Regions from separate parts of the Homo sapiens genome. Here region 1 is linked to region 2. Evidence: fine-mapped expression QTL. A gene starts in region 2. The other region holds a variant in brackets. All regions are shown on one strand. Distances are between the middles of the regions. Region 1 overlaps SPG21 (SPG21 abhydrolase domain containing, maspardin). Region 2 holds the start of SPG21 (SPG21 abhydrolase domain containing, maspardin).

Evidence for each region.
Region 1: its variant is fine-mapped to the expression of SPG21 in blood mononuclear cells (TOPMed, PIP above 0.99).

The regions. Positions count from the first base shown.
Region 1 is chr15:64,958,990-64,964,516 of GRCh38, reverse strand. SPG21 (SPG21 abhydrolase domain containing, maspardin) reads left to right here. Exons shown (of 9, transcript NM_016630.7): 9 at 781-1,495. The coding sequence ends at 897. Among named protein-coding and RNA genes, the nearest start is that of SPG21, 28 kb to the left of the region's middle. The variant G/A (reference allele first, on the strand shown) is at 3,063.
Region 2 is chr15:64,987,858-64,992,857 of GRCh38, reverse strand. It overlaps SPG21 (SPG21 abhydrolase domain containing, maspardin), which reads left to right and starts at 2,944. Exons shown (of 9, transcript NM_016630.7): 1 at 2,944-3,193. RefSeq lists enhancers at 2,511-2,570, 2,611-2,680, 2,736-3,235, 3,236-3,737 and silencers at 2,751-3,240, 3,361-3,410, 3,213-3,507.

The DNA.
Region 1 (5,527 bases), 29 kb after region 2:
CAGTTATATCCTGGCCACGCATGGTGGCTCACACCTGTAATCCCAAAAACCAGTCATATCCCTTGATCCTGTCATCCCCTTATAGAAGACAGGATCCTAAACAGGAATACTTGATGCCCAGAGATATTCATCATAGCAGCACTAGTCACAGTAGCAGAAGATTGGAAGGACCTAACTCACAGCAGCAGAAGGGAAGGGTAAACATCTCATGAGCATGCACCATCTAAGATGTCTCAGGAGACTCTGCAGGGACTCAGGGAGACTGCTCAGGGAGTGAGGAACAAAGATCCCAAATGTGGTTTCAAAAAATTGTTTGACTTTTCTCTATTTAGTATGTCTTAGTCTGTAAATTTTAGAAGTATAAAACATTTGTCCACTATGGTGATGTTTTCCTACCAAACTTTTTATAGAAGGCAGTATACATTTTACTCTGTAATGCAGCCATTTAAAACAATGATTCTGGCAGGGTGCAGTGGCTCACACCTGTAATCTGGCACTTTGGGAGGCCGAGGCAGATGGATCACTTGAGGCCAGGAGTTCAAAACCAGCCTGGCCAACATGGTGAAACCCTGTCTCTACTAAAAATACAAAAATTAGCTGGGCATGGTGGCGGGCACCTGTAATCCCAGCTACTCGGGAGGCTGAGGCAGGAGAATTGGGTGAACCCGGGAGGCGGAGGTTGGAGTGAACCAAGATAGTGCCACTGCACTCCAGCCTGGGCAACAAGAGTGACACTCCAGCTCAAAAAATAAATAAAATAATGATTCTGCATTTCAACAGATACATTTGCTGCAATTCCATGGAACCAAATACGCGGCCATTGACCCATCAATGGTCAGTGCCGAGGAGCTTGAGGTGCAGAAAGGCAGCCTTGGCATCAGCCAGGAGGAGCAGTAGTGTGTCTCTCGCTGTCAATGATGAGTTGACCCGGTGTGTTCTTGTATAGTCAGTGGCATCAGCACCCGTCAGCCAGCCTTTTCCTTCAGGTTCGTCAGGCTCACCGGTTCTCACTGTGTCTGGGAAGTAGGACTGATGGTCATCTTCATGACAGGCGGCATCTCCACTAAGCCTGTGTAACTGTTCCCTCTTTGGTTTTCTTAGCTTTTGAATTTGAAGAAGTACTTTTGAAGACTCCCATTTTAAGAACCGTGCAAATTTTGCTACCAAAAGTCTTCACCACTGTGTTCTTAAGTGAATGTTAATTTCTGAGGTTTGGGACTTTGTGGTGGTTTTTTTCTTCTTTTCTTTTCCATTCTTCTTTCTTTCTTTTTATGTTGTTTGCTGTAAATGCTGCACATCCAGATTGCATATCAGGACATTGGTTATTTTATGCTTTCTTGGATATAACCATGATCAGAGTGCCATGGCCACTACCCCACTGTTTGCTCTCCTGCAAATCAACTGCTTTTAATTTACACTTAAACAAATTGTTTTGAGTGTTAGCTACTGCCTTTCTAGATATTAGTCATTTGGAATAAAAATTCAATTTAACTGAGTCGCTTTTGTGATTATTGTTGCTGCCCAACTGGGCTACACAGGCCTAGGACTTTCTGAGAAGTAGGTCATGGTTGCCAATTCTGTGTGACTTTGGGTAAGTTACTTAATCTCCCTGAAGTACAGTTTGCACATCATAAAATAACCCTAAGCTATCATTTATTGATCTGCTACTGTGTGCCAGGTACTTTTCTCGTCTTCTTTCCCCTGAGTGAAAATGCTTAAACCCACATGAAGTAGAGAAAATGGCATAATGAATGATGTTCCCATCATCCAGCTTCAAAAATTATCAACTCTCAGACAGTCTTGTTCATCTTTTCTTTTTTTTTTTTTTGAGACAGAGTTTCGCTCTTGTTGCCCAGGCTGGAGTGCAATGACGTGATCTCGGCTCACCGCAACCTCCGCCTCCCGGGTTCAAGCAATTCTTCTGCCTCAGCCTCCCAAGTAGCTGAGATTACAGGTATGCACCACCACGCCCGGCTAATTTTGTATTTTTAGTAGAGATGGGGTTTCTCCATGTTGGTCAGGCTAGTCTCGAGCTCCTGACCTCAGGTGATCTGCCCACATCAGCCTCCCAAAGTGCTGGGATTACAGGCATGAGCCACCATGCCCGGACTTGTTCATCTTTTAACCTACCCACGTTTCTTCCACACATGCTCCTATCACTAAATTATTTTAAAGCCATTTCTGGTGCTGTGTCATTTCATCTGTAAATATTTCTATGTGTACCTTTAAGATACAGCCTTAATACCATTATCACACTTAAAAATTTACCAATAATTCCTTCAATTATTTACCAATAATTCCTTCACTGGATTGTCTAATAATCCAGTGAATGTTGTCACTCACAATTATTCCATAAATTTTTTTTTATAGGTGACTTGTTCTAATCATATAAAGCCCACACTTTGTCTCTTAGATCTCTTTTGAACTGGAAGCTCCTCCTCCCTCTATTTTTTCTTGCCATATATTCAGTGAAGAAACAGGTTCATTTGCCCTGTAGTTGCCCCACAGTCCAGATTTGGCTGACTGTGGCCTCATGGTGTCCTTCCACTTGTTTCTCTGTCCCTGGTATTTCCTGTAAACTGGTAGTTACATCAAGAGGCTTGATCAGGTCAAGCTCGATCTTTTTGGCAGGAACACTGCATAGATGGGGCTGTGTGTTTCTCTCGCGTCATCTCAGGAGGCATCTGTCTGGTTGTGTCTAAGTTATTATGATTGCTGGGTGTGTTCAGGCATCACCAGCCTGATCCAGTCCTGAGAAAGTCCCCTGCTGGCTTAGCTGCCACTGCTGACCATTGCACAGGTGCATCATTCCATGAGGGGTTGCAGGTCAGTGATAATATTAATTTTTATCATTCCTTCTGCATTTATTAACTGGAAATTACCGATTTAAAAAAACAAAAACTTGCCCTCATCGACTGCTTGGTTTCGCTGAGATACAATTTAGACAGAAAAATAAGCATCAGTGCTTCTTTCCCTTTATGTGCCAGGTTTCAGAATATTGGGTTGGCCATACCTTCTTAGACTTCATCCCCAATACAGCCCTGATTATCCTGACTTTACAG[G/A]TGAGGACCTGGAGACTGGGTCAGGCAGTAAGGGGTGGAGCTGGGATGCCACCTTGAATCTGACCATCCCTAAAGCCAGTGATCTTTCCACAAAGGGGCCACATTGTCTTCTCTATCTGTGGCTTGACAACAGTCATGAGTTATGGAAACACTTGGTAAACCATAAGGGCGAAGCTTGACATTTTAACTAGTAGCGTCTGAGGCTACTAGAGCCGTCTAACAACTTTAACTACTCCCCAGCTCTGCCCCCTGATGACTGCAAGTTGTCATTGCCAGCCCTGATCAATTTTGAGTACTGGCCTTGAATGCGTACTCAGGCCTATTAGGCCAGCCTTCAACAGGCATCTCAGCCTTCGACAGGCAACCAGTCAAAAGCTATGCCCATGGCCCCACTGCCCAAACCTGCCCTTCCTCTTCTAGCCCCATTTTCTTAGGTCCTGGCATCACTATTTCTTGGAATCCCCAGTTAGAAACTCAGCCATCTTGGACCCTCCACCCCCACTCACTCCTCCACCCCCATGTCTCAGGCTGAAGCGGATGCAGAGATGAAAATTTGGGTGCAAGATGTTTATTAAGGATCAACATCTGTGGCCTGGTGTGGTGGCTCACACCTGTAATCCCAGTACTTTGGGAGGCCAAGGGGAGTGGATCACCTGAGGTCAGGAGTTCAAGACCAGCCAGGCCAACATGGAGAAACCCAGTCTCTACTAAAAATACAAAAAAATTAGCCAGACCTGGCGGCACGTGCCTGTAATCCCAGCTACTCAGGAGGCTGAAGCAGGACAATCACTTGAACCAGAGTGGCAGAGGTTACGGTGAGCTGAGATGGTGTCACTGCACTCCAGCCTGAGCAACAGAGTGAGACTCAATCTCCAAAACAAAACAAAAAAACAACATCTGTGAAGGGAAGATGGATTGGGCAGAGAGCGAAATTGAACTGTGATGCAGGCCCGATCAAGTACCCACCAACTCAGTAGGGCACGCAGGAGCTTGAAGCACCCACTGGAATATTTTCATGGAGGACTAAAATGGCTGGGTCTCTATGCTCCCGCGTAGCTCAGTTCCCAGAGGCAGCTGCCCTGGGGAGGGCAGGGTGTTGGGTGGGGCAACTCTCTGCAGCTGAGGCAGACCCTGAAGGGCTGACAGCTGGAGGCCATCTGCCCAGCTCACTCCTGCAGCTGGATGGAAAGGCCTTCCTGGAAGAAGGGGGTCCGGGCAATGCATTTCCACATCTACTACACCTATATCCCCTGACTCTCAGAGATCTAGCAACTTGCCTGCAAACTTGAGCCTTCCTCACTACAAGTTAGGCCTTGGCATCTTTTGCCCAGACTACTACAGTCCTCACTGGCTCCACCAGCCATCTCCTCCCACCCCCACCCATCCTCTGTGTGGTCCACACACAGGTCTGATCTTGTCACTTGCCAGTGCATGAACACTAAGGGACCTCTGTTGTGGAAATCAGACTAGTTTCAGAAACTCTGAAGTGGGGCTGTAACCATTTAGTGAAGCTCTGCACACAGGAAGAGATGCGGGGAGCAACCTCCACTAAGAGCCAGGGACTCCTTCACCTCAGTTCTTAACCTGGGAGTTTTATGGGTTCATTTTGATACATGATGTGATCCAGGGCCTGTACCCGCTTCTAGAAGTTATCTTGGGATCCACAGGAGAAAGACTTCGCACTTTTTAAGTATATAAACCTGCAGACTATATGTGAATAGTTTTAAGTACAGTATATATCTTAAAAAGGGGCCAGGCACAGTGGCTCACGCCTGCAATCCCAGCACTTTGGAAGGCCAACCCAGGCAGATCACGAGGTCAGGAGATCAAGACCATCCTGGCCAACATGTTGAAACCCCATCGCTACTAAAAATACAAAAAAAAATTAGCTGGGCGTGGTGGCATGTGCCTGTAATTCCATCTACTTGGGAGGCTGAAGAGGAGAATCGCTTGAACCAGGGAGTCGGAGGCTGCAGTAAGCCGAGATCGCACCACTGCACGCCAGCCTGGCAACAGAGGAAGACTCCGTCTCAAAGAAAAGGGAGGGAGTAACTGTAAGTAAATATCCATTGGAAAAGTGATTTAAATATACATTTTAGAAACAAGGAGAGTCACAATTAGCAAGGTAAAGTAGACTCTGAAAGGACAAGCAGATGTGCATTTCCAAAGGCGGAGTCTATTCTGTTCAGTTTCTACTTTATGAGACATCTAATTTTTGGTGATGGGGTGGGGAACAATTTCCAATGCATCTGCACCCCTCCCCCTCCTGCCCCTCAGGTCACAGCTCCCCCTCCTTCCACGCATCCTGTGCTCCAGCCACGCTACTCCCCAAGGTGGGGGGTCCCTCTCCACACCTCTGGGCTATTGCTTAGGCTGTGCTGTTGGCTTGGACTGCCCTTTTCCCCACTTCTGTCTCCTCTGTGAGCTGCTTCCTCCCCTTCCTTTCTTCCTTCCCCCAGGAAGGA
Region 2 (5,000 bases):
CTGCCGCCTCCCAGGTGGGTTCAAGTGATTATCCTGCCTCAGCCTCCCCAGTAGCTGGGATTACAGGTGTGCACCACCACACCCGGCTAATTTTTGTATTTTTAGTAGAGATGGGGGTTTTGCCATGTTGGCCAGGCTGGTCTCGAACTCCTGACCTCAAGTGATCCACCCGCCTTGGCTTCCCTCAGTGCTGGGATTACAGGTATGAGCCACTATGCCTGGCTGCTTTTAATTATTTTGATCACACAGATAATATATGAATACATTTTAATATAAACTCAACTATTAAATCCAAAGTCAAAGTTCTTCACCACTCCCTCCATCCCCAGTTCCTCCTCCGAGGTAATCACTTAGCTGCTTGGTACATACCTCTCCAAACATTTTAAAAAGTGCATTCACAGCTGGGCGCAGTGGCTCACGCCTGTAATCCCAGCACTTTGGGAGGCCGAGGCGGGAGGATCACGAAGTCAAGAGATCGAGACCATCCTGGCCAACATGGTGAAACCCCGTCTCTACTAAAAATACAAAAATTAGCTGGGTGTGGTGGCAGGCACCTGTAGACCCAGCTACTCGGGAGGCTGAGGCAGGAGAATAGCTTGAATCCGGGAGGCGGAGGTTGCAATGAGCTGAGATGTGCCACTGCAATCCAGCCTGGCAACAGAGCAAGACTCCGTCTCAAAAAAAAAAAAAAGTGCATTCACTTATGTATACACATGCATAGGGATATTTCTGGATCTGGGATTATTTTGTGTGTTTTCAAACAAATATTATCCTGTGAAAAGATAAATTAAGAGGGACAGAGCCCGGGTTTGGGTAATTCTGAGAGCCAGCTGGCCATCTGTTTACTTTGCTTGGTGTTCACAGCATATTTTGTGAACATTCCAGTTTTTCTGTGAGATTCTCACAGATGAATTGGTGCTGTGGGAACCATCTGGCAGACCCCAGCCACAACAGCTGCAAATCCTTACAGCCATGTCTACCAGGTCAGCCTGCACTGGGACCTGCCTGAATCAAAAGTTTGCTGCCTGAATTTGTGCATTACAATTCAGCTGGAATTCACAGATATTAAATGTTCTTTGTTGGGATTAGGAAAGGGACAATGTGCTTGCCATGTGTTATGGAACAACTGAGGACACAAACATGACCATGGTTTCCCTTCCTGAAAGAAGTAAAACATTTATTATTTTTGGATTGGTCTACATTGTAATAAAAGTTGATATGTAACAAAACATATCTACATAGTGATTTTTTTTTATTGTCAATTGTCAAAGTTTACTACCACACTAACAGAACAATGACTTTTAACATACGGGTATATCCATAGATTAGGTCTCATTAAAGCTGTTACTAAATGGGGTCTAGGGATGGGGTCTAAGGAATACAGCTTTAGGAACAAATGTGGAAATGGGGATAGATTTATTTATTCCACTCATTAATTCATTCAATATAGTTTTTTGTTGGGAGCAGACAAGGTCTCTCGCTTTGTCACCTAGGATGTGGTGCAGTGGATTCGACATCTGGGCTTAACAGATTCTCCCATCTCAGCCTCCTGAGTAGCGGGGATTACAGGCATGCGCCACCACGCCCGGCTAATTTTTGTATTTTTTTGTACAGACAGGGTCTCCCAGGTTGCCCAGGCTAGTCTCGAACTCCTGGGCTCAATCAAGCGATCCGTCCACCTTGGCCTCCCAAAGTGCTGGGATTACAATCAATATACATTTAGTACCTATTATTTATGGGCTAATCATGTGCTAATGGACTGGTGGAATCACTCTATTCCCTTTGCTCTAGATTGAAGCTTCGAGACCACCTGGGAAAATAGACAACTAATGTAATGAATATCCATAACCAGTTTCAGAGACAACCAGTAGTTTGCAAGTTATTCCACCCATTAAACGATTCCAAATGTTGGAGAAAAGGCCCCCAACTTAAAATACTCCACGGAAACGTGCTCTATACATCTATGTGGTGCTTACAATAAAAGATGAATTCCTGCGACTGAGTTGCAACCCCGAAAGAAATGATTTAGAGAAAAAAAGAAAGAAAGAAAAAGGTAAGTATGTCACCGTGCTTTTGGAAAATGCTTTTGGGATTTGTCCAAGTTCTAGAGTGGAACCCAAGGCTCCTGGGCCAGGGGACAGAAGTGATAACTAAGTAGGATGCAATTTAGTTGGAATCTTCCCTGACCTTAATCCCATAAACAGTTGCCTAGGTAAAGGCAAAGTCTACAGGCCCTAAAACAGGGTACAAGCTTTCCCTAAAACATATTAGAGAGAGGCACTTTCAACAGGACCTTGTTGCAGGATCCCTAAAAAAAAAATTCAAAACAAGGAGATTTACATGTTATTCACCTTATCATAATTTCAGAAATATTTTACTAATAAAAAAGGAGTCGTGAAGTCTGGAACACCTTAAGACGTGACGTCTGCAACACCTTAAGAACAATGATTACAAATGTATTAATATTCTCTCTGATTTTAAGGGAAAAGTGATGAAGGAACAGGAAGATGGGTGGGCGTATGTTCCCAGAAATCCCCAGAACGTCAAAAAGGAAGCGGAGGCTTTGAGTGGAGGACTACGGAGAGCGTCTACGGTTGTGCCAAAGGAAAAAAAATGTTCCTAAGAAAAGAGTATACAAAGTTGTGTTCATCAAAGTCTGGAACCCAAAGGTGTCCCTCCAAAGCTGTACACGACAGAGAAAACGCGAACTGAAAGAAGAAGCAGGTCCCAAGGGGCCAGGCGCCTCCTCCACCTCCTCCTCCTCCTAGGTACGTAGGGCAGAACTAAGGCTGACCCAGACGTAACTCAGCCCTCTCCTCACGCCAGCCGCAGCCAAGCATCCCACGGAGCCTCCCCCCGCGCCCGTCGCCGTGGCGACCGCCGGGGCCACGCAGCACCGCCCCTTCCTCGCGACGTGGCCCCGCCCTCTGAGAACCCGGAAGCGGGAGTCTCGCGCCAGCTGAGCGGCGGTCGGGCGGGGGGAGCGCGGCGGCCCAAGCTCGCTCGGCCACGCGCCCCGCCCCCTCAGAGGCCGGCCTCCCGCACGCACCGCGCAGCCTGCTGTGCCCGTGGGTCCCGAGTGCTCCGCCGCCCGCCCCGACCCGGGCCCAGCCGCCTCCACGGCCCGCGCTCGTACTGGAGCGAAGAGCGGCCTCCTGAAGGAGGGGAAGGGACGTGGGGGCGGCCACGGCAGGTGAGGGTGGGCGAAGCCCTGGGAAGCGGCTGGGTGTGCGGTATGCGGGGTTGTAGGTGTGTGTGTGTGGCGCGTGGCTGCCTTGGTTGGTGTGACTTTGTGAGTGTGTTCTGAGTGGGCCGGTCCATGTGACCACGCACGTGATCACGTGCCCTTGTGAGTGTGTGTCTGGGGCCGAATCTGGGCTGTGGGGTGGTCGGTGTGCTTGTGACCCTGCCTTTGTGTGGCTGTCACCGGTGGGACTGGCGGGGAGCTGTGTGTGAGTCTCCAGCGGGAGGTGGGGGCGGCACAGGGCTTAACCGGGGCATCCTCCTGTAAACCCATCCTGGGGCTACACGACTGCAGCCCAGGAACATTTCTTTCTTTCTTTCTTTCTTTTTTTTTTTCTCAGCAAACTTTTAAGAACTGTGAGCAGAGGCCAGTAATTTTGGAGACAGGACCTCGGCCTGAAAGTGATAGATGTCTTTGTTGTTACTGAGTGTGGGCCAGGTGTAAGGTTTGTAAACGGGGGATGAGGAACAGAGCGGGACCGGAGTGTCTCATTTTTCCTCTTCTCGTTTTCCTGGGGAGTTATAAGTTAGACATTTATGCTGCTTCCTTTGTCTCCACCTACACTGGTTCAGCTCCTTTTGGCACAAAGATTCAACAAATTAAGGAGTAACTTTTTTTTTTTTTTTTTTTTTGAGACGGAGTCTCGCTCCGTCGCCCAGGCTGGAGTGCAGTGGCGCCATCCCAGCTCACTGCAAGCTCTGTCTGCTGGGTTTACGCCATTCTCCTGCCTCAGCCTCCCGAGTAGCTGGCACTACAGGCTCCCGCCACCACGCCCGGCTAATTTTTTGTATTTTTAGTAGAGACGGGGTTTCACCGTGTTAGCCAGGATGGCCTCGATCTCCTGACCTCGTGATCCGCCCGCCTCGGCCTCCCAAAGGGCTGAGATTACAGGCGTGAGCCATCGCGGCTGGCCACTGAGGAGTAACTTAATAGCTGTGTCCAAATTCCAAAAGCTTTTTTCCCAAGAGCATGAGAAGAGATGTCACAGATGTCAGGTAGGCACCTTTTCCTCCTGTAAGGTTTAGAGATAATGCAATGAAGAAAAGAGGGATAGATCTCCCCTGAAGAGATCTAAGAAAAGGATAGCTGTGTACTTCTGTGGTGAGGGATGGAGACGTGCATTAAAAAGCCAGTTGCATCTCCCAGAGACTCTCAGCTTCTAATATTTTGTTATGGCTAGTATTTATAAGCACAGATTTTCCACAATGCACATCAACTATAGATTGAAATAAAGTAGCAGAAACCTCTGACTAATTATGCTGGTTATGTGACTTAAACATTGATAAAGGTGATTTTGTTGACTTTAAAGTGGCAGGTTCTGTTGAAGCCATGAGGGATAGGGGCATAGTCACAACTGGCAGGTTTTTTTGTTTGTTTGTTTGTTTGTTTTTTGAGACAGAGTCTCACTCTGTCGCCCAGGCTGGAGTGCAGTGGTGTGATCTCAGCTCACTGCAACCTCCGCCACCCAGGTTCAAGCAATTCTCCTGCCTCAGCCTCCTAAGTAGCTGGGATTACAGGAGCCCATCACCGCGCCCAGCTAATTTGTTTTTGTTGTTGTTGCTGTTTTGTTTGTTTTTTTGAGATGGAGTTTCGCTCTCGTTGCCCAGGCTGGAGTGCAATGGCGTGATCTCGGCTCACCGCAACCTCTGCCTCCCGGGTTCAAGTGATTCTTCTGCCTCAGCTTCCTGCGTAGCTGGGATTACAGGCATGTGCCACCACGCCTAGCTAATTTTGTATTTTTAGTAGAGACGGGGCT